3 separate regions of the Homo sapiens genome follow, and regions 1 and 2 are each linked to region 3. Evidence: fine-mapped QTL for protein levels in blood plasma. A gene starts in region 3. Each other region holds a variant in brackets. All regions are shown on one strand. Distances are from middle to middle. Region 1 overlaps CENPP (centromere protein P). Region 2 overlaps IARS1 (isoleucyl-tRNA synthetase 1). Region 3 holds the start of ASPN (asporin).

What was found. PIP is the chance, under the fine-mapping model, that this variant and not a neighbour inherited with it causes the effect. Sun 2018 read protein levels with aptamers (SomaScan).
Region 1: its variant is fine-mapped to the plasma level of the ASPN protein (Sun 2018, PIP 0.95). The variant lies in the coding sequence of ASPN. If it changes the protein, the assay may bind it differently, which can mimic a change of level.
Region 2: its variant is fine-mapped to the plasma level of the ASPN protein (Sun 2018, PIP 0.95).

The regions. Positions count from the first base shown.
Region 1 is chr9:92,463,034-92,471,033 of GRCh38, reverse strand. All of the region lies in intron 5 of CENPP (centromere protein P), which reads right to left. ASPN (asporin) reads left to right here. Exons shown (of 8, transcript NM_017680.6): 3 at 253-365; 4 at 4,463-4,676; 5 at 6,005-6,115. Among named protein-coding and RNA genes, the nearest start is that of ASPN, 15 kb to the left of the region's middle. The variant G/A (reference allele first, on the strand shown) is at 4,653.
Region 2 is chr9:92,230,908-92,239,343 of GRCh38, reverse strand. All of the region lies in intron 30 of IARS1 (isoleucyl-tRNA synthetase 1), which reads left to right. Among named protein-coding and RNA genes, the nearest start is that of MIR3651, 57 kb to the left of the region's middle. The variant AT/T (reference allele first, on the strand shown) is at 3,830.
Region 3 is chr9:92,479,174-92,487,173 of GRCh38, reverse strand. ASPN (asporin) reads left to right here and starts at 4,668. Exons shown (of 8, transcript NM_017680.6): 1 at 4,668-4,881. The region is part of intron 5 of CENPP (centromere protein P); the gene reads right to left.

The sequences.
Region 1 (8,000 bases), 16 kb after region 3:
TTATTCCACCTTAGAGGGGATGAGTAGTGACAACTATACCAATCTAGACACCTTGTAAAAATTAATAAGTTACTCAAAAAGGTCCTGAGGTCTTCCCCCAAAACAATGTTTTTTTTGTCATCTGTTATGACTGTTAAGTCATCTGTAACTTGATGATAATCATGGGTTTTAAAAAATGTATATTTCTACCATATTAGTAATCTCATCTTCAGCATGATTCTCTATTATATAATATGTTTGTTTCTTTCTAAGGTTTGACCTCAGTCCCAACCAACATTCCATTTGATACTCGAATGCTTGATCTTCAAAACAATAAAATTAAGGAAATCAAAGAAAATGATTTTAAAGGACTCACTTCACTTTATGTAAGAATATATCCTCATACTTTCAAAGATTTAAGTGAAAACTCTGTATCTTTGCTATAATGATTAATTATACTATGTTAGTATAAACAAGTCTTACTTTTCTGTAAAGAATGACAAAAATCCCTGCATTCAACAGCGTTCTAGTCAATTAAAAATTATAGATTTCATTCAATTAATAGTCTAATTCAATGGATGTTTATTAAATAATAGCCATGTAAAATGTAGTGGGCTGAGTTTAATGGTCCTCAAATAAGCTTACAATCTATTCAGGTAGTAACAGTCACTATACATTAAAATGAACAAGAAAACAATTACTTACAGCAATCATTAGCAAACAGTGTAAGAAATCTCTACCCAAACGTGTTAAGACACCACAAATCTCTAACAGCAGCACACAGAATATATCTGATTGATTAATATATACATGTATGGCTTATTTATTGGATCTTTAAAGAAGAAAAGAATTTTTTCTTTACTGTATTAGTATCATTTTAATATTCTAGGATTTAAAAGATTACTACTTCCATGTTTAACATTTTGGGCTGGGTGTGGTGGCTCATGCCTATAATCCCAGCACTTTGGGAGGCCAAGGCGGGCGGATCACTTGAGCCCAAGAGTTCGAGATCAGCCTGGGCAACACAACAAGACTCCACCTCTATAAAAAATACAAAATTAGTTGGCATGGTGGTGGTGCACGTAGTCTTAGCCAAGAGGTAGAGGTTGCAGTGAGCTGTGACTATGCCACTGCACTCTAGCCTGGGTGACACAGTAAGACCCTGTCTTAAAAACAAAAACAAACCAAAAAAATCATTTCGAAGTCTCCAGATTTTAGCAAGTAAAATTTCTGATTTAGTCTGAAATTGGGTTTGGAGGAGCACCTCATTTCCCCCGCCACCGCCTCCCCTCAGCACAGCTCCTGCCTCGCTGACTCTGGCATGGTGTTAGAGGAAGAGCTCTGGTTCTGTATCATCTGAGGTGGTAAGCCAGGCCTGGCTATTCCAGGCCATTTCCCCACACTCTCAGGCTGTGCTGGAGAAAACAAATTTAAAGTCTGTCATCTCTAGATAAGATAAAACTAAGAGAACAGGGTAGAAAATACCATAACAATATTAGCCCCTTGCTACCATGCAGGCCTGGCCTGTTCCTGTGTCTGAGAGATGTGGGGTCACCATGCCTCCCTGTCACCCTGGGTCAGTGCAGTGGACCCTGCTGGCCCATCTCTTCCTCCCTGTCACCCTGGGATTGAGGACATGCATGCTGATCATACTTAAGGCAGACTGAGGGATGCTCAATCCTTGCATCAAGCCTCCCTACAAAATCCAGCTCTCACACTGCCCGGTCAGGTAGCCAGCACCTTGTCTGCTCTTTTCACTTTCAAAGTGTGCAGGCAGCTCAGATCTGGTAAGCCTCCATTATCAATATAAAAGAGCAACTAGAAGAGCATATATTTATAAGTTAGGTCTCACTAAAACATTAAGACAGTCAGAAATGACACAATGGATTCCACCGAGGATCCACCCAGTCCACCCCACTAACTTTAGGCCACAGAATCTTTTGGAGAATGGCAGGCCATTATTCCACCAACAGAAGTTGGAAATATAGCCTGTTGATGCGTTTACCACTTCTTCAACCCCTTTTCAGCTTAGATAACCACAAGAATAATAACTAATGGCATATTTAATACTGGGGCTATGAAAGTTTTAAATTCATCATATCATTATTTTATTACATTTTAGGAGCATTCCAGGGACTTAGTCCATACTTATTCTTGTTATTCACAGGGAAATGAGAAACTAAATGGTATCAGGAGCTTTCTTAGACCTACTTGATTTCCTTTGAGAAATGCATGTCAGGTGTAGAGCAATGGAGGGAAAGCCCCCAGCTGTTAAGTAGTATTACTGCCAAGCTACTATTAGCAGACTGACCAGGTGTACTGATGTAAATCACTTTTTAAAGTACATGCTTTATACTTGAATTGTAGGTATACCACACAATTACAAAACATTTATATAATTATAGTATCACCTTATATGGTACCTGTCTTTTAAGAGAATCAAACTATTTTTTAGACATTCTACAAATTCTCTGTGTTAAGTTTTAGCTGCTTGTTTGGCACTTGGGTTCTTACACAAAGGATGATACAGTCAGAGCAAAATCACTGAACACAATCACAGCCCTCCCAGCTCACTTCCAGCCATTATGAGACACATGTGGCATGAATCACTGTCCTACTACTGAATGGCTATGCTCTTCTCATCTTCTGTCCTTACACTGTTTGTTAATGATGAATTGGAAGCTCTGTGATAATCAAGCCAGCACTGAGAGTGCAGTTTAACTGGATCACTCAGCCAGCTCACCATGCAGGGCAGGCAGTCCACCATGTGGCGCGGCTCTTACCAGTGCTGCACAAAACCTCTTACACAGTTTTGTATTACTTTTCCTTCCTTTTATGCAGTTCCAACAACTGCATGTTTTAATTAGGAAAAACAAACTAATAAAAGCCCAGTGCACTAGACTTGGATCTCACTGACGCACAGGTTCACTTTGTGGTGGGGCCTCTCTAACCCTCACTTGTTGCATGGCATAGGCAAGTCACCTTTCTTCACTTTACGCATTTCCTCATCACTAAAAGGAGAGTAATAATTCCTGCTAAATTTACCTCTTGGAATCAAGAGAGGATTCACAAACCATCTTGATGATCCACCAAGTTGTTAAATTCCCCTCACCTCATTTTTCAGTGTAACCAAAGGAAAAGAGAAGATACTTTTAGTTGGCATCACACACTCACAAACGAGGATATTTTACCAGTTGGTAACAAAATGTAGTTTCACCTCTTCTCCTAGGCTTACCCTTTCTTGGTGAAACTTTTAGCAATAGTGATATATCTGGAATTTCCAGAGGGTGAGAAAAGGAAAGCACAAAGGGCCAAGAGTGAGATGAGGAAACGTGCAGATACAAGTTTACTGAGCAACCAAAATGTGTATTTCTGCCATGGAAAAACAACAACAATATGAGTAATACCAGTGAGGCATATTAAACAAAGGGAGATTTTTGTGAAATGAATTTGAGAACAAAATCATAAAATGAATGAATCTAGAGCTGCTCCTTGAGAAAATCAGATGACCTGGATTGGTAAAGAGGGACAAAAAGGTCCTGAAGACGCTTAGTGGCCTGTCATCATTCTTGGTAAACACAGAAATTCTCTTTGAACAATCTGGCAAAGAGTAAAGAACTGAGCTATGCTCATTTTGCAATGAAAATCCTTATCAGAGTTACCAACATGTCCCAGTTTGCCTAGGACATTCCCAGTTTGGGTTCTGAAATCCCCACATCCCATAATCTCATGATCTGGGCAGACTGAGATGGCTGGTCACCCAAGCAGCCATGCACCCTTGGACATGTTGCAAAAGACTTGTGCAGAGAGCACACTCACACTGGTACGAGCTCTTTTTACTCTCTGGAGTTATTAGACCTCCTCTGGAGGATGCTGTCTTATTGCCCTGAGAAATACCCAAAAAACTGATAAGAGATTGAGTCATTTCTCAGGATCCATTACTATATCCCCAATATCTAAAATATGCCAGAATGCTGAGGGCACATGGTAGGATTTTTTTCCTTACAGGCCTCTGTTCTGGGAGAAATGGTAAACATTAGTAAATATGAAAGAAATGAGGTTTTCAAAGTAGACAAAATCATGCAAAAGTATATTTGGTGTGCACTAAACATAGTTTTGTAGAGTAAATAGATTTTAAGATAAGATAAAGATAATATCACTGGTCACTTCCCTGAAGGGAAATAGGAGGCTGAGTAGAGGTTGAAGGCTTAGCCATATGAAAGTATTATCTATTCAAAGATTAAAAAGATGCACTTCTATCTAAACCAATGGCACAACATTAATTATTATAGCTCTGCACTTTTCTAACTCAGTAGTAAAATTTTTTTAAAAGCTTAGATTGGGCTGGGAAAGTTTTTACATGGGTGATCTAGTACACCACTGATATAAATTGTACTGATTTCCATCATTGGCTAATCACTGTAGAATACTGGTAAATCAAATCCACTTCCTAATATTGTGTAACTTTCTATGCTTGATCAAGGGTCTGATCCTGAACAACAACAAGCTAACGAAGATTCACCCAAAAGCCTTTCTAACCACAAAGAAGTTGCGAAGGCTGTATCTGTCCCACAATCAACTAAGTGAAATACCACTTAATCTTCCCAAATCATTAGCAGAACTCAGAATTCATGAAAATAAAGTTAAGAAAATACAAAAGGACACATTCAAAG[G/A]AATGAATGCTTTACACGTTTTGGGTAAGTTTTTCAAATGAATGGGACATCTTGAAATTATAACAAACAAGCAGATGTAGAACACTTTATCGTCACTATTAAGAATAATTTCCAAAATTAATTTTTGAATAATCTTTGCCTAGATAAGCCATTTATAAACCAATTAAAATGTCCAACAAAATGTTTAGCACTTAAAGAAAATATGATCTTCGTAATACTGTCTCTCTCTCCCTGAAGAACCTCCTTTGAGGCCAGGCCTGGTGGCTCACGCTTGTAATCCCAACACTTTGGGAGGCCAAGGCGGGCGGATCTCCTAAGGTCAGGAGTTTGAGACTAGCCTGGCCAACATAGTAAAACCCTGTCTCTACTAAAAATACAAAAATTAGCCGGGTGTGGTGACAGGTGCCTGTAATCTCAGCTACTCGGGAGGCTTAGGCAGGAGAATTGCTTGAACCCAGGAGGCAGGGGTTGCAGTGAGCCGAGATTGCGCCACTGCACTCCAGCCTGGGTGACAGAATGAAACTCCATCTCAAAAAAAAAAAAAAGAACCTCCTTTGAAACACTTAGCGTGGTTTCTGTTTCTGACCAGACCCTAATAAAATATAACTTATTATTTAATTTAAAGGTAGTATTTTTAATGTATTGCATAAGCTACTCAAATATAATACACAAAATTAGTTTGGATATTATTTGGAATGTGCACCTAACATTTGGTTATCTGCTTTAAGATTATCGATGTGAGGAATTTTTTGTCTTATATTTAAAACTCTACCTGATTTTATTTCTGACACCTATCATATAACCATGCCATCTCCCTATAATATCCATTCAAAATTCATAACCAAGATACTAATTCATTTATTCATTTAATTCAACCAAGTGCCTGGCCTCACTTACTGGCATTTCTTCAAGGTTATATTTCTGCTAACAAAACAACAATTTCTAATTGACTTACAATTTAAAAAAAGTTTAAGACACAAAAATGTACACAGAAAAACATAAACATTTTGGATTATATGAAGGATGATCTTTTTTGATGCACTATTACAATAACAAAACCTTAATTGTGCTCATGGTTGGAGGAGAGTGAAAATGTCACTGATATGGTAATTCAAAGTGAAAAATAGTGAACTTCTCATATATTCCAGTTTACATAATACAAAGCCGTATTTTTCTGATGCTGACAGAAAGGACAGTAGATAGACAGAAGCAGATATACCGAGTGAAAATGAGCCTAAAGGATGAAGCTCACGCTTCTTGGGATATTCATTCTTGGGATGTGTCTCTCTGCACTGTGAGTTTCCTTTATATACAACCTATGTGTGCTAAGTCATGTCATTCTCCCCTGACAGAAATGAGTGCAAACCCTCTTGATAATAATGGGATAGAGCCAGGGGCATTTGAAGGGGTGACGGTGTTCCATATCAGAATTGCAGAAGCAAAACTGACCTCAGTTCCTAAAGGTTTGTATTTACTTTATCTAAGATATGGTATTTTAAAGTTGTCACCTTTCAATAACGATTCAATCTAATATTGTAAACTGTGCAGTATACACTGCAACTAGAAATCTTTGCACCAGTAAATCTGGTCAATATAGTCTACACACACATAAAATGCCATATGTAGTGCCTTTTTCCTGACAGAATTAAGCCACAATTTTTTTTACTCCACTAAGAATAAACATTAAGAAGCAATGAACTTTTAGTTTTCCTTCTCTTTCCTGACATTTACTCATTTATACCTGTCATTCTGTGCAGTACCTGTTAGAGGTAGAGAATTCTATACAGAAGAAAGCAGAGAAAGATAGATGGGGCAAGAGACCCTGTCCCCAGGCATTTAGCCACAGTTTGAGGTGAAGCCTATGAGCCCAGACTGGGCAGCCCCTGGCTCTGGCAGGAATGGACATGCCATTCAAGGCAAGGCATTTTGTACCCAGCTTCTTCCCAGGTGTACTGTGAAGACTAATGGGCCAATACACAGAAAGGTCTGAGGACAACATCCAGCACGTAGGAAGTGACCACCTGTGACATAATCATTACCAAGATGAGCACTGTGCTCTTTATCATGGCTTTGTGTGACCCAAGGCTAGCACCTCAAGTAGAATGCTCCTTAAGTCTGCCAGATGACCAGTGTTCTAACCCATTACTTCCAAGCTCCCTGTCTGATGATTAGCTGCATAGGATTGCCTTTCTTGGAACTCTTGCTCAAAGTCTTGCTTTCCTTATTCCCAACAAGGGCACATGCTCTCTTTGCTTTGATGACTAACTGGGCCAAAAATAACCCCTATGATTAACAACATATTTTTACTTTCCAACAGCTCCGTCTTTCAGTATCCATGAGTTAAAGCAGCAACTTCATCACGACCCCCTCTAATCTACTCACCTGATCCAGAAGATCAATAAAACAAACATATACAGATAATTTAAAAGACACAGTAAAGCTGTTATTATTAATCAAGAGGTGACCTTTCACTTAGGTCACCTAAAGATCATCTAAAGTAAAAGAGGAAAAATAACTTTTCTATCCAGGAAAACAACAGTTTAATTCAGAACTATACAAATCCAAAAAAACACCTCAGTGTAGCTTTAAAGGAGGTGGATGTTTTTCTACAAGAAACCAAAAATGTTACATTTACCTTCCCATTTTAGAAAAACAACAAAAAATGCAAATGCTACCCAATAAGTTAAACATATAAAATCCCTTTCATCTGCTGGAAGATAACATCCAGTAAAGGAGAGTGAAGACAAGGAAAAGAGGAAGGTAGAGGGAGGAGAGGAGGACAGCCTACAGGGCTGGAGGAGGGAGCTGCTGTTCCAGGCCACATCTCCTGACATGGCCATTCTTTATGTTCACACCAAAAGTCTTTCCTACACTGCAAAATTCTATTTAAATTTCAAAGTGTATCTTAAAAGTAAAGGTTTAACTTCTCATGAGTTTTCAAGATTCTTTCAAAGCCAAAAGGAATCTTTAGAAATTTAAATTGGAATCAAATCTCTCAACTTAAATAACTATTCCTTCAAATCCCCTTGACATTCAGAATTCACTAACCTGTGAAAGCTGACTGCCTGCATGGCATAATCCAGTCAGTATTACCCCCTGTGGCAAGATGAAAGGATGCAGGTATCCTGAGGGTCCTTACCAGACCCAACAAGTTATCATGTGGACAGGATGAAAATGTCTTCTTTCCTATTCGTTCAGGAAGTTCTACTGCATAATATTATGTGGGGAAGAGGGGAGACCTGTTTGAAGACAGGGTGGGAACAGAAATTCCGGTACAAAAGTGTGCTAACATTTGTCAGCAGTTACTGAGCTTCTGCCAAATTCACACCTCTGCTCGTTTTATCCTAG
Region 2 (8,436 bases), 250 kb after region 3:
GATAAGTATTGTCTACCAAGAATTCCATATCAATCAGAAATACCCTTCAGGATGATGGGAAAATAAAGACATTCTCAAGTGAAAGAAAACTAAAAGAATCCGTTCCCAGCAGACCAGTCCTAAAAGAGTAGCTAAAGGATGTTCTTACCACAGAAAGGAAATAATGAAAGAGGGAATCCAGAAACATCAGGAAGGAAAAAAGAAAAATGGAAAATCAAAATGGAGGGTAATTCAATAGACTTTCATTACTCTCATGGGTCCAGCAAGCACTATATCATTGTTCGATGTGGTTCTCTGTGTATATACACTAAGGCCTCAACATCATCAGTGAGTTCTTGGGTCCTGCAACTTTAAGTGAAGTGATGTACTGTGTGCCATGGGAACTTAACTCCTGTGGTAAAGTTGGTTTATTATATAGTACATCATTCTGCTTGAAGTCACAGTTTCCAAGAACCTACCAGCAACATTAAGGATTTACTGAACAAGAAATAATAGTTAAGACAATTACAAAGGAGCGAGGTTTCTACATTTGTCACAAACCGGTAAAATATTGACACCAGTGGACCTTAGGAAGTTATGTTTATGTTAGGTACTACTTGGAGTTACCACTAAGAAAAGACTATACCACAGGATACATATAAAACCCTAGAAAAATAAAAAATGGAACTCTAAAATATGTTTTAAGTAACTGTATTAGTCCATTTTTCATTGCTATAAAGGAATACCTGAGGCTGGCTAGTTTATAAAGAAGGTTTATTTGGCTCACAGCTCTGCAGGCTGTATGAGAAGCACGGCACAAGCATCTGCTTCTGTTGAGGGCCTCAAGAAGCTTTTACTCTGCTTTACAGAAGATGAAGTGGGAGCAAGTGTATCACATGATGAAGAGAGGGAGCAAGATAGAAGCCAGGCTCTTTTAAATAACCAGCTATCGCATGAACGAACAGAGTGAGAACTCACTCATTACTGCAACAAGGGTACCAAGCCATTCATGAGGGATCGGCACCAGTGACCCAAACACCTCCCACTAAGCCCCACTTTCCCACATTGAGGATCACATTTCAACATGAGAGTTGGAGGAGACAAATATCCAAACTATATCAGTAACCCACAAGAAGCTAGGAGAGAAAATCAGAACAAATATGCCAGGCACAGTGGCTCACGCCTGTAATCCCAACACTGGAAGGCCAAGGCAGGCGGATCACCTGAGGTCAAGAGTTCAAGACCAGCCTGGCCAACATAATGAAACCCCACCTCTACTAAAAATACAAAAATTAGCCAGGCTTGGTGGCGGGCGCCTATAGTCCCAGCTACTCAGGAGGCTGAGACAGGAGAATCGCTTGAACCCGGGAGGCGGAGGTTGCAGTGAGCCAAGATCACGCTCCTATACTCTATACTGGGTGACAGAGCGAGACTCTGTCTCAAAAAAACAAGCAGAACAAATGAAAGATTGGCATATTGTTAAAAACACATTAGCCAAGTATATGCTGTCTATAACAAACTTCTAATATAATGATACAGGTGAGTTGAAAGTAAAAGGGTAGAAAAATATATACTATGCAAACATTAATCAAAAGAAGCAGGAATGGTCATGTTTGTATTAGATGAAACAGACTTCAGAGCAAAGAAAATTACCAGGGGCATTAAATAATGATAGAAGTGTCAGTACACAAAGAAAACAGTGATCCTAAATTTATATGCGTCTAACAAAAGAGTTACAAAATACATGAAATAAAAAGATACAGACATTAAAGGAGAAATAGACAAATCTACAACTATAGTTGGAGACTTCAAAGTACCTTTTTCAGTAATCAATAGACCAGTTAGAACACCTCAGCCAAAAATAGCAGAATATAAATTATTTTTGAGCTCTCACAGAACTTTGCTGAGATACATTATAACCTGGGCCATAAAACAAACCTCAACCAATTAATACAGTTGAAACCAGAGTGTGCTCTCTGACCACAGTAGAATCAAACTATTAATTAGTAATATAATAATGAAAATCTCCACACTCTTAAAAATAAACAACATGCTTTTAAATTATCCATGATTAGGGAAGAAGTCTCAAGAGGGAAAGAAACATAGAACTGAGTGTAAAGGAAAATACGACATCAAAATATGTGGAATGTGGCTAAAGCAGTCCTGAGACGGAAATCTGTTGCACTAAAAACTGAAAGAAAGATGGTTTCAAGTCATAACCTAAGGTCTAAACTCAAGAAACTAGATAGGAAAAAAAGGCAGAATAAATGCAAAGTAAGAAGAAGGAAAAACATAAAAATAAGAGATCAGTGCAATTGAAAACAAAAACGATAGAGAAAATTAATGATACAGAAATCTGGTTCTTACCCAAAAATTCAGCAAAATTAATAAACCTCTAGTGAGACTAATAAAGAAAAAGAAGACACAGTTGCATATCAGGAATAAAAAGAATTATTGATACAGATTGCCAAAATCAAAAACGCAAATACTATGAATAAATCTCCATATGTAAGTTTGACAACTTGGATGCTTGTCGCCCAGGCTGGACAGTGCAGTGATGCCAACTCAGCTCACTGCAACCTCCACCTCCTGGGTTCAAGTGATTCTCATGCCTCAGCCTCCCGAGTAGCTGGGATTCCAGGTGTGCCACACCACGCCTGATGAATTTTTGTATTTTTTTGTAGAGACGGGGTTTCACCCTGTTGGCCAGTCTGGTCTCAAACTCCTGGCCTCAAGTGGTCTGGCCTTCTTTGGCCTCCCAAAATGCTGGGATTACAGGTTTGAGCCACTGTTCCTGGCCTGAAGTGAACCCTGTTTCTAAAAAACACAAACTACTACAACTCACACAATATCAAACAGATAATTTTAATGGCCCTATAATTATTAAGGAGATGAATTTGTAATTTAAAATCTCTGAACTAATCTCCAGGCCCAGTTTCACTGGAGAATTCTTACCAGAATTAACACCAGTTGTACACAGACTCTTCCAGAAAATAGAAGAGGAAGGAACATTTCACTCATTTTATGTGGTTATTAACCTGCTACCAAAACCAGATAAAGACAGTATTAACAAAAAAGATAGGCTGGGCACGGTGGCTTATGCCTGTAATCTCAGCACTTTGGGAGGCCAAGGCGGGTGGGTCACCTGAGGTCAGGAGTTGGAGACCAGCCTGGCCAACATGGTGAAACACCATCTCTACTAAAAATACAAAAATTAGCCAAGCCTGGTGGCGGGCGCCTGTAATCTCAGCCTACTCGGGAGGCTGAGGCAGGAGAATTGCTGTAACCTGGGAGGCAGAGGTTGCAGTGAGCTGAGATCGTGCCATTGCACTCCAGCCCAGGCCGACAACAGCGAGACTCTGTCTCAAAAAAGAAAAAAAAAAGATAGAAAACAGATATTCCACATGAATATAAATGTAAAATTCTTCCCAATAAATTATTAAATAGAATTCAGCTATGTATACAAAGAATTATGCACCATCACCAAGTGGGATTTATTCCAGGGATGCAAGGCTGATTCAATATTTAAAAATCAATCTAGTCCAGGCGAGGTGGGTCACGCCTGTAATCCCAGCACTTTGGGAGGCTGAGGCGGGTGGATCACAAGGTCAGGAGTTCAAGACCAGCCTGACCAACATGGTGAAACCCTGTCTCTACTAAAAATACAAAAATTAGCCGGGCATGGTGGCGCGTGCCTGTAATCCCAGCTACTCAGGAGAGTAGGATTATTGAGGCAGGAGAATTGCTTGAACCTGGGAGGCAGAGGTTGCAGTGAGCCAAGATCGCACCACTGTGCTCCAGCCTGGGCGACAGAGGGAGACTCCATCTCAAAAAAAAAAAAAAAAAAAAA[AT/T]CAATGTAATTATCGTATTGTCAGACTAAAAGATTACATGAGTATAGCAGTTGATTCATAAAAAGCATTTGATCAAATTCAACACCCATTCATGATGAAAATCCTCACAAAAATAGGAAGAGATGAGACCTTTGTGGACTGGATAATGAGCATTTTGCAAAAATCCTACAGCTACCATTATACCTAATGGGGAAAGCCTGAATTCTTTCTACCTAAAATCAGGAACAAGGCAATCACAACTCATATTCGACATTGTACTGGAAGTTCTAGCCAGTGGACCACGGCATGACGAGGAAATAAAAGTCATGCAGATAAAGAAAGGAATAAAGCTGACTCTATAGAAAATCATAAGGAACATACATACAAACACCTGAAAAAATAAGCCAGGCTTGGTGGCTCACGCCTGTAATCCCACTTTGGGAGCTAAGGCAGGCAGATCACCTGAGGTCAGGAGTTCAAGACCAGCCCGGCCAACATGGTGAAACCCTGTCGAAAAAATATAAAGAATTAGGTGTGATGGCGGTCACCTGTACTCCCAGCTACTCAGGAGGCTGAGGCAGGAGAATCACTTGAACCTGGGAAGCGGAGGTTGCAGTGAGCCGAGATCGCGCCATTGTACTGTAGTTTGGGCAACAAGAACGAACTCCATCTCAAAAAAAAAAAAAAAGCTCATATTGCCTGGTTTTAAGATGTGGCCTGGGATCACCATATTGATCTTCCCATGCCAGCTGCTCCCATGATGGTTGTGTGTTTATTTAGACCTGTGATGATGTCTCAGACAGTACATGGTTCCCTGAACTGCTTTGCAACTTCAGTGATGTTGTATGGCATTGAGCTGGTCCATCACTGCCAACATCCTGGCTGTCTCAGGTTACCCTGTAGAAGGAATCGGATGGTCAGTGGTGTGCATCAGTAATGTAAACAAGAACAGTGTTCTTGTACAGAGGGCCAGCAGCATGAGCAGTGATAAGACAGGTAGGGCCTATTTTCCCATCTACCAACTCCAGGACTGGCCATTCCTGGGTCAGTTGACCAGACACCTGGAAAGAAGAGCTCTCAACTCCAAGATTATTTTCTTAGTAATAGCTTTAAATGCAGCCACAGCTTGGTCGTCTGCCTTAATATGATTTGATATGTTTTGCAATTTACTGTCCTGCTGAAAGCATTCATATTATGAGGGAAAAAACCATACAAATCATCGCTAAATCTGTTATTTTTAAATGTTTGGCCTTTTTCTATACCCTTTGGATTCAAGCATTAATTGGGTTTCCAAAGTAATTGAATAGAAATCATATTGCTTATAAAAAAGAAAAAAACTTTTGAGTCACAGGATGTAAGATAAACATACAAAAATGAATTTTATTTCATAATAGCAATCTATACTAGCAATGAACAAGTGGGCAATGAAATTAAAAATGTGGTATCATTTACAGTCACTTAAAAAAAGATGCTAGGTCAGGCGTGGTGGTTCACGCATGTATTCCCAGCATTTTGGGAGGCTTAGGCAGGAGGATTACTTTAGCCTGGGAGTTCGAGACCAGCCTCGGCAACAAAGTGAGACCCCGTCTCTACAAGAAATAAAAAACTAGGCAAGTGTGGTGGTGTTCGCCTTTAGTCCCAGCTACTTGGGAGGCTGAGGTTGGAGGATTGCTTGAGCCTGGGAGATGGAGGCTGCAGTGAGCCATGATCATGCCACTATACTCCAGCCTGGGCCACACAGTGAGACCTTGTCTCCAAAAAAATATTCAGATGTAAACCTAATAAAACATGTTGGGACTTGTATACTGAAAACTTCAAAATAGTGATGAAAAAAATCAGACAAAATCTAAGTAAGTGGAGAGACGTGTATGGATTAGAAGATTCAATATAGTAAAAATGTATCTTCTATCCTGCTGTGGTTTGAGTGTGTCCTCCAAAACTCAGGTTAAAATGTCATTGCCATTGTGACAGCATCATGAATTAGTTAATTACTTCACAAGAGTTATGATAATTCTTACCCAGTCCAATGGTGTGATCTTAACATCAGAAACCTGTACTTGTCAGAGTCCTTTCCATTGCATCTCCTCAAAGATGAAACACTTTAGATTCACTGTTGCTTACAATAGTTTTCAGGAAAGTGCCAGAGTAAAACAATTAACTATCGTTGGATGACAAGACTTTAAATGGCCATGGTTAAATATCTAATGAGAGTTCATTATACTAATGTTGCAATTGACAAGGAAGTTTAGTTATTTCTGTGGTATACAGCATTTTAAGGTAACTAGAATTATGACTGATAACATTAGACCAGGCTATCAGATTTCTAAGAATTTCACACAATTTCTGGAACACATTATTTGTACAAGTTAAAGAAGGTTAAACAACATTTCTTATTTGACAGCGCTTCCCATGCAGATCTAACGTAGTCAAATAAGTCTAACTTGTTTACTGTTTCTCTTCATAATGAAAGAAAATTCTCTTGAGATATTTCAGGGGGCCTCTGAAAGCTCCCAAAGTTAGCTTGAGGTCAGAAAGACTTAAGTTTAGAGTTTGATTTTGGGAAGCTAGTAAAAAATATCAAAGGCTTAAAACACTTGATTAATAGGATTGCAGGTCACTGAAGCTACAGTCACTCATTTAACCAGAGTGATAATTAAAAATATCAAAGGCAAATATAGAAAGTCACAAAGTTATAAAAAGACCTGAGCAGTTTTAATAGAGAGGACTCTGTTTCTCTGTTTTCTTTTCTGTAGAGACAGTGTCTCACTACACTGCCCAGTCTGGTCTTGAACTCCTGGACTCAAGCAATCCTCCTACCTCAGCCTCCCAAAGTGCTGGTATTATTAAGGCTTATTAATTTGATAATTTATAAATAAATTCATTCAGAACTTACCCAGGTTGACCACACATAAAATTCCTTTTCCAAGATTCCTCTTCCACAAACCTACTACAACTTTCTCATACCCTTCTGTTTTGGATTAAATTCTTCCTCTTACTGTGAAACAAGTCATTCTACTATAAGGCAAAAGTTAGTCTTTTTCTCTTAACGAACACACATCCTTCATACTTCATAGCTTCACCTTACCAAAACCATGTCTTTTCCTCACATACAGAATCATTTCTCTTATTCTAGTTATAACTGTCACATCAGCATTCTATAGATTGGCAAATCTATGAATCAAATTTGTAGAAACATATGCTTCCTTGTAGTATAATTTATGTTCCACTATTAATGCTTCAGTATTTTATTTGGAAAATATCTACATATCCAATGAATATTCATCATTTAAATTAACAAAACCCCTAGGCTGTAAATTACCAGTGGGGAGCTATTTTTGAGTAGACATAACACAAACAAAGCTAGCTATCATTAAGTTATTTCTCTGTTAGCTACTTTTACAGCATGTGCATGTTCGGCAGTCTTCACAAAAACAAGAATCCTAAAAAGTTTAATAGATGAGATTTTTTGTTTTTTTGCTGCACTCGAAAAACGTGAAGTAATGGATACTGGCACCCACTTGCACATTGTTCATAGGTTGAACTCATAGTTGTATAATTATAAATATGTAGTGGAGGTAACATAAACTTATTTGATAATAAATCCTGGTAGGATTTAAAAGTTGTATATCTGCATTATATATTCTTACCCAAGTCACATGAACTTGAAAAGCATGTGTGTTGGTTTCTATATTGCTGAGAGAATACTTAATTTATGTGAAATGCTTATTTTTCTTTAAATCAATTAAATAGAAATCTTTTATGAATTAATTTTTGACCATACCATCTGGAGGTAGAAAAACATCTCATGGCTGGGTGCGGTGGCTCACGCCTGTAATCCTAGCCCTTTTGGAGGCCGATGCAGGCAGATCACCTGAGGTCAGGAGTTCAAGACCAGCCTGACTAACATGGAGAAACTCCATCTCTACTAAAAAAAAAAAAAAAACAAATACAAAATTAGCTGGGCATGGTGGCACATGTCTGTAATCCCAGCTACTCGAGAGGCTGAAGTAGGAGAATCACTTGAACCCGGGAAGTGGAGGTTGCTGTGAGCCAAGATCATGCCATTGCACTCCAGCCTGGGCAACAAGAGCAAAACTCCGTCTCAAAAAAAAAAAAAAAAGAAAAAAATAACACATATACGTAACATACCTACATGCACAGGCATGTATAAGCATACAGATAAGCAGATTTCTTAGCTTTCATTTGAAAACTGTAGCCATGTGCTAGGTACTATAATATAAAACACACTAGTTTATGAAACAATAGCTGGATCAAAAGTATATTCCCAGCAGATGGAATAAATTAAGGTTACTTACTTAGGTGGCCAAAGTGCTCTACTAGTATTTTTGGAAAAGTCTTAAGATTTTTCATTTAAACATTAAACAAAGAGTTTTAAAGCCTTGACACAAAACACTGTCCTTAAAAGGGAAAAGTGATATATTGAACTAAATGAAAATTTAGGTTTTGCTTTGAACATCCTATAAAAGGATGAAAGACAAGCTACAGACTGGGAGAAAATCTTTATAAAACAACATATTTGACAAAAGACATATCTAGAATACGTAAAGATCTTTTAAATCTCAACAGTAAAGAAAAATCCAGTTAGAAAATGGGGTAGAGATATGAA
Region 3 (8,000 bases):
AGAGGTAAGAAATTTATTTAAAACAAAACCATTACTTGTACAGATTCCTCAAAGCAAACTGACTTCAGACATTCATTAAAAATATTTGACACAGCTGGGTGTGGTGGTGCACACCTGTAATCCTAGCGCTTTGGGAGGCCGAGGCGAGCAGATCACCTGAGGTCAGGAGCTCCAGACCAGCCTGGCCAACATGGCAAAACCCCATCTCTGCTAAAAATACAAAAATTAGCCAGGCGTGGTGGCCTGCACCTGTAATCCCAGCTACTCAGGAGGCTGAGGCAGGAGAATTGCTTAAACCCAGGAGGTGGAGGTTGCAGTGAGCTGAGATTGTGCCACTGCCCTCCAGCCTGGGTGACAGAGCAAGACTCCGTCTCAAAAAAAAAAAAAAAAATTGACACATGCAAAATATAATAAACAAAATTGTATAAGTCCTTCATTTTTCATAAATTCAACGGAATGAACATTTAGTGACAATTTATTATAATTCATTTTTCAGAACTAGAAACTTCAAGTAGGATGACAGAGTGAGCTCAGCCACATGACACAGCAGAAGCCAGTCCCTGCAACAGGAAGAGCTGTGAGGAGAGGGTAAGAGGAGGTCAGGGCAGCAGAGAACCATGGAGGGCCTACGTGCTCAGCAAATTGCTGCTACATAGGACATCAGGGTCAGTTTTTCCAGCTCATATTTTTCCAAATACATTGTAAATTTGGACTTCGATATCAAATGTCCTGGTTTTTAAAAATACTATATGCTCCAAACAATCTGCATGTTGAATACTGCCCCTGGGTCACAACCTACAGTATAAAATAAGTTCATTAGAAACCGAAGTGCCTAGTCCACCATGAGGGACACTTGAACATTAAAACTCATGAAATCTTAATCACTTATCCCTTCACAGAAGCTTTTTTAAGCATCTACTATACAAAAAACCCTATGTTATGCATATTTACATCCTAGAATTCAGTGGCCTAGAACATTCTTAAAGTGGGTGTTTGCATGGCACGGCTAACTCCCTCACAGCCCTCAGGTCTTGTGACTGTCACCTGACAGGGAGGGCACCCTTGACACCCCCACCCCTATCCTGCTTCTCTCCATAGCACTTACACTATTTGTTGAATGAATGGATTGGTGGACGGCCTTTCTTGTAGCTACTACTATAAAAGAACATTGTACAATCTATTCCAATTCATTTAGAATGTGAAGGACACCACAGACTGGCAAAAGAACATCAGAAAATTCAAACTGCCTACTTTTTTGGCAGGTGTGTGTGTGCCCCACAATATACTCCTGACACATGCTGCTCCTATAGCTCCTGCCTCACCTATCAAACCTTTTCATTTGGGCTGTGTGCAGGTGGTTCCCACCTGTAATCTCAGCACTTTGGGGGGCCGAGATGGGAGGATTGCTTTAGCCCAGGAGTTTGAGGTATGATTGTACCACTGCACTCCAGCATGGGTGACAGAGTGAGACTCTGTCAATCAATCAATCTTTTATTTGCATGAGACAGTTTCCAAGGTCCTCCCCTGTTCTTATTTGTGTTTGGACTTTGACCACTGTTGTCCATGTCTAGACCAGGAGAAGTTCTAGAAAGGGTGTGAGAAATCATACGAGAGCTTAGATTAGGCAATTTATTTTTATTTTCACGATGGTTAGCATATATAAGGCCAAAGGAAAATAAATTTGCATTAAAGTTCCTTTTATGGCAATCAATATTTTTATTCATAAACTGTCAGTACTGAGAATATTACTTTTTCAATTTTGTAATTTATCTTTGTGTTTGCAACATGTAAATTACTTGTGATTCCTAAATATACTGTTATAATGCAACTAGTTCTTCAATATTTAGACTAAGGCTCAATGAGGCAAAAATAAAACAATTTAAAAAGCATGGAGAAAAGAACTAGGTCCCCTCCATAGGACCCCTTTAGGAAACAAAAATGGAAGATTTTTCTCTTCACAATACTTGAGGGAAGAAGAGGTACACTGTTTCATTTGGAATGATAACCTGGAAAAGGGTGGAGATAAACTCCAGTTTCTTCCCAGATGGCACGTTCGTGCCTGCTGCACCATCTCTGGCAAATGTGAGGCAAAGCTTTCCATGTCACAGCCCCAAGATGGTGGAGGGTTGTGCCTGAGGCCTGCACCTTTACCACATTATCTGCAGAACAGAGTGAATAAGCCAAATATACTACCCCTAACCCCAGCATCTTATTCCAGGGCCTATTTCTTTCCCTAGGCCCTCTGACCAAAGATCGAAGCAAAATATCAGAGGAAGACTAGCTTAAGTCTCACAGTGGGGAGAAGGAAAAGTAGCTGTAACATATCTTTAGAAACACAATCTTACAGGAACTGCCTCTCAACTCTCTAGATATGGGAGGCAAAACTGCACCCAGAAAGGCCATGCAGGCAACTCGACTGAGGAGTGCCTTGGGTGGGTGACGTGGACAACATCCTGTGAGTATAGAAGAGAAAAACACAAGTCCCAGAGACAACAGTTGCCATGCAAAACCAGAAATCACAGACTGGGAAAGCCTAATTTTTAAAGAGAAGTTGAAATCTTATTTTTAAATACAGCAATTTCACCTAACAAAAATACATACACATGACCCCCAAATGACAGACTGAGGAACGTTCATAGTACCTCTCCAAAAGGTAATTAATCTAGTTGAATATATAAACAATTTGTGGCTTATTCATGTATGAGAATACTATACAGTGACAAGAATGAACTACTGTGTATCACAATGACACGAATGGATCTCAAAAGCATGTCACTGAATGAAAAAAGCCAGATGCAAAAGAGAATGCACAGTATGATTCCATTTATATAAAGTTCAGGAAATAACCTATGGTGCTGAACTCAGGCTGTGACTTGAGGAGTAAGAGGAGGGATTCTGGATGTATGAGAATGGAGTGTGAGGCTGGGATTTCTTGATTGGGGTCATTTTGTAAAAATTAATTGAGTTGTACCATTATGATATGTTTTTTTTTGGTAACATACACTTCAATAAACAGTTCAGAAACAAAACATTGTGCAGGACAAACTGAATTTGACCCAAGGGCTTCCTGTTTATGACTGTGTTCTGAAGGAATTTAGGCAAACACTAGATGCTCTGGATACAAAGATTTTAAAAATCCAGTTCATATTTTCATTATGTTCCCAATTCATCCAGTTAACAGATACATTTGCAACTGAAATATACTTGAATAAATGAGAATATGAGCATTCTAAACCAAACAGGAGGGCCGTCATTCCCTAAGGTGCTGCAGGGCTAGGATGGGGCCTGAGTTACAGAGGGCCACTAATGGGACTACCGAGCTGCCTGGAACTGTCAGCCTAGAGGTCCAAGGAGGAGTACTTTATTTAAGTGAGGGGAGGATGAACACATAGCCAGCTGCTATGCACATCTGAGGCACATGTATTCTTTAGGACTGTAGCTGCCTTGCTTAACACAATGTGTGCCATTTCTCTGGAGAGAGGGAACAAACGATGGTCAGACTCTTGATGACAGTAGAGAACAGGTCTTCTAACCCACTGGAAAAGCTCTTTGCTGGCCTCCAAATCTATACAACAGTTGGGAAGAACCATTGGGGTCACTTACAACAGTAAGTCCTTGCCACTAGGGTTAGAAAACTGTCCTCTCAGGCCGGCCATGGTGGCTCATGCCTGTAATCCCAGCACTTTGGGAGGCCGAGGCGGGCAGATCACGAGGTCAGGAGATCGAGACCATCCTGGCTAACACAATGAAACACTGTCTCTATTAAAAAACCAAAAAATTAGCCAGGCGTGGTGGCGGGCGCCTGCAGTCCCAGCTACTCGGGAGGCTGAGGCAGGAGAATGGCGTGAACCTGGGAGGCAGAGCTTGCAGTAAGCCAAGATTGCGCCACCGCACTCCAGCCTGGGTGACAGAGTGAGACTCCGTCTCAAAAAAAAAAAAAAGAAAACTGTCCTCTCTTGAAGGTCTTAGTTGATGTAGAATTGGGCAGTCTCTTGGGGATGAGTGGAAAGGGGGTACAAATAATGATTTATTTTCAGGAAATAGCATCTTCCCTGCTCTAAGTCTCCCTAAATGTCAGTGAGGCCATAGCTAATATTCTCTTGAAAAGGGAAAGTTGTATGCATCCTAAGAGGGTGTTACTTGGACATGCATGTGTGTCTGTGTTATATCACATATGTTGAGTCCAGGGAGCAGTTCATGGAGCCTCATCCATAGTTTCCCTGACATGCTATAGCAGTGCTAAAAGCTTAAAAAAAAAAAAAAGTCTGGAGAAGTATGCATAATGCAATAGCTACAGTCATTAGAAGAAAAAAAAAGTATGGTTCTTTCTCAGGTACATCTGAAGTTTGGGTATATACTTCAGTAATGTTGGTATCCTTTATTCAGATTGATAAATATTTTATTAGTCTATACAGGTTGAGTAATTTTTGAAATTGTAATTTACAAATATTCATTCACTTAAGAATCTAATATTTTTAAAACTAGGTATTTCTTGAATGACTCCGACTGCACTTTCAATGGCCAGTTGCCATGCATTATTAAACTTTCTTTTTTTTTCTTCTTCAGAATCTTCCAGTAGACGTCTAGAGTTTAGCTAGAAGTCTTGGCTACGATACAAACAGTGATGGAAAACACATGAGCAGTAACAAGTTTTAATCTTGCTCCTCAGTACTAACATGGACTAATCTGTGGGAGCAGTTTATTCCAGTATCACCCAGGGTGCAGCCACACCAGGACTGTGTTGAAGGGTGTTTTTTTTCTTTTAAATGTAATACCTCCTCATCTTTTCTTCTTACACAGTGTCTGAGAACATTTACATTATAGATAAGTAGTACATGGTGGATAACTTCTACTTTTAGGAGGACTACTCTCTTCTGACAGGTATGTTTCATGTCTATCTTACAAGTATCGATGTATACTTTACAGTCAATACTAAGGAGACATTAATGTTATTAATAAATGCTTATAAATAATAGGATAAAGTCCAAAGTTTATCTCTATAATTTCTTAAAAATCAGCATTTAAATACAAACCTAAATTTGTACCTAAAATTATTCTAGTTTTATGTCTTACCTATAATGAATGTATTTTAAATATAATTATGTGACTTTTTTTTTCAGCTAAGTGAAAACCTGTCATTATGCCTTACCATAAATGTTAACATGATTGATTTTAAAAGTCATCTAAATAAACATCTTGTATGTTTATCTAGGAAAATAACATTGCTATAATAATGATCATGAAGTTTGGGGATATCACAGCTATATTAAATGAAACAGTAAATATATTTTTCAATATTTAAAATATTTTCTAATGTGTATTTAAAATGTGTGAATTACTGAAATGTCAATTTTACTTATACATTTGAATATTCATTTTTTTCCTTGATAAATGTCTTCCTTATTATAATGAAATGGCACTGAAAAGTTCAAATGGAAATCTATTCAATTCCAAGAAAGAATACTTATCAGCAATAGTTTAGCTAGCACTATATTCAATATGAAAGATTAGGAAATTTTCACAGCATGTATACAGTCAGAATTTAACACTTTCAAAGATTTCCTTTGTCTACTCCCAAAGTAAATTTCTGATTAAATTTTAGATTAAAAAATTTAAGCAATGTATTCAATATTCTACTCCCTAGTAATCTAAATAGCGCACAGCATTCTTTCATGTTAATCTATTCAGAGGTGTGGCACCCAGGAAACAGTGGCCACATGGTGTAGGGACTGAGTCATAAAGAACCTGAGGGGGTTGTATTTCCCTAAAAATAAAGTTGTTTAAATCCAAGAATCAAGCTGTTAAAAGAAAGAAATGAAAAAAGAAAGAAAAATCGAGCACAAGCCCACACACATAAAAGGATCCTGATGTTTTTAGTTTGTTTTTTGGCATTAAGGAGTATAGTGTAGTAGTGGAAAGAACAGAGGATATATAGTCTTCTGTTACAACTAACTACTCAATTAAAAACAAATATTCTGATAACTGATCTGAGGTTTGAGACAAAAACAATTAACTTTACAAGCACAAGTCTTGAGGCACTGTGGGAAACATCATAAAAATGGAGAGGCAGTAGATTTTGTTTTTTAAGACAGTAGCTTGATTGCTAGACATGTGGAGAAATTAATGAAGGGCAAAATTAGTATAAAAGGAAGAACAGCTAGAATGCTTTGTCAGAATGCTAGTTATACTTCTAAGGTAAAATTAACTACTTTTTAAGGAAAGTGCTATCTTTATCAGTATCCATGAACAAATGGTACTGTGAATAAGTTTCCAAATGCATGTTGGACTTTTAACTCATTTGTTAGCTTACAAGACTATGCCTTGATTACATCTGAATTTGGTTTGGATTCCTTCGGTGAAATATATGGAGTATGTTATATCACATTTATATGCTGAAATCTGCTACTGGTACCTGTGAACTGATAGGCATGTTTAAACCCAGGGGAAAAGTTGCCAAGCGGGCCTTTAAACATGGGATTTAAAAGCACAGTGACTTATTTACCTAATAATAGTGTCTGAGAGGAAATACCATTTCACTTAGATAAACTTTCTAAGTTTGTAGACCAGTTAAATGGAAACAAGAAAGCTTATGTGCTTCTTAAGCTTTATTTCCAGTCCATATGTTATGAACTCTTTTAAGAACTTGGCCAAACCTCCTTACCTAGGCTTTTCCAGAGGAAAGTCTGTTTACTGTCTGGAAGTAACTATGAGATTAAAATCCATTTAGGAGGACATGCAGTCTAGTGCAAAGCACAACCAACAAGCAGTGAGGAAGCCAGCCCTCAGCTCCACCACCTCCAGCCAGTTCTGGACGCTCACTGCCTCTGCTTTTTCTCAGTAAAAGAGGGCCATGGGGGGAAAGTCTCAAAGACCTCTCTTAGCTCTAGGCTACTATGATTTATTAGTAATAGCAGTAGCACTGGAAGAATACTCCAAACACTACTCTGATTAAGAGAGACTTGAAACCAAAATCCAAAGCTTTCCATGAGTGGAAAACACTGGCAAAACTGGTCTAAATCAGGGAAATATTGAGTATTCCTGAGAAGAAGATTTAATATTTTTAAAGGGTTTAAAAATAGAGTAACCTGAATACTGCCAAAACTAATAAAACAGAGGTTGTACCTCATTAATAAACTCAAAATAAAACAGCCAAAAGTCATATCATTTTAAATGACATATAATATTCTCTACATTCTTTCTGAATAATAAGAAAAAAATACTGCTATCTAGGGTTCTCTCCTAGACATTCCATTATTTTCCTATTGGTAAACAGTTGCACACTGAACTGGGGGAGGTTTAGGACCTATACTTGATTGTACTTATTAACAAAGCAGTGGAAGAGACCCAGCAAGAGACTCAGGTAAAGAGTGTAAATAATGAATTCCTCATGGTATCAAGGTTGGCCTGACTTTTTTCTTTGCAAGCAACCAGGATACACAAATGCAAAAGATTAGATTAATTGTAAAAGGCTAACAGAAGACAGAACTAGCAGAGAGAAATGAATTTTCCAGAAGGCATTTTTGAGTTTCCATATAAAGACTTTCCTAACAGCCATGGATGGACAACTGTGGAAGATGCTGCCTTGAGGTAGTATCCTCTCCCTGGAGCTATTCAAGCAGGGTGGATATGCTCCCTGTTCCAGAATGTTCTGGAACCTTCACCACCAGGAGGAACTCCTGTTTCAAAGGTCTTCATCTCTTATTCTCCAGGAAAGGGCCTAACTACTATATAAAAGTGGCTGCCTCCACTGCTCAGCAACTGGAATGCTTCCCAACAGCTAAAGATAATGCTACTGCCTAAAACTTGCAGGCAGAAGTCTCCATTTCATATTTTAATTTTACCGCAGTTTTGATTAAAGGCAGGGAGGGTCTCCTGTAACTTATCAGTCTCAGAAAGAGGAGAGACAAAGGAAGGGGCCCCGGCTGATGCTTCTCCTGATGCCACTGGGGGACTGGTCAGCAGCCCTGAGGCAGGGATGTGGAAAAAAGCAGGACCACTAC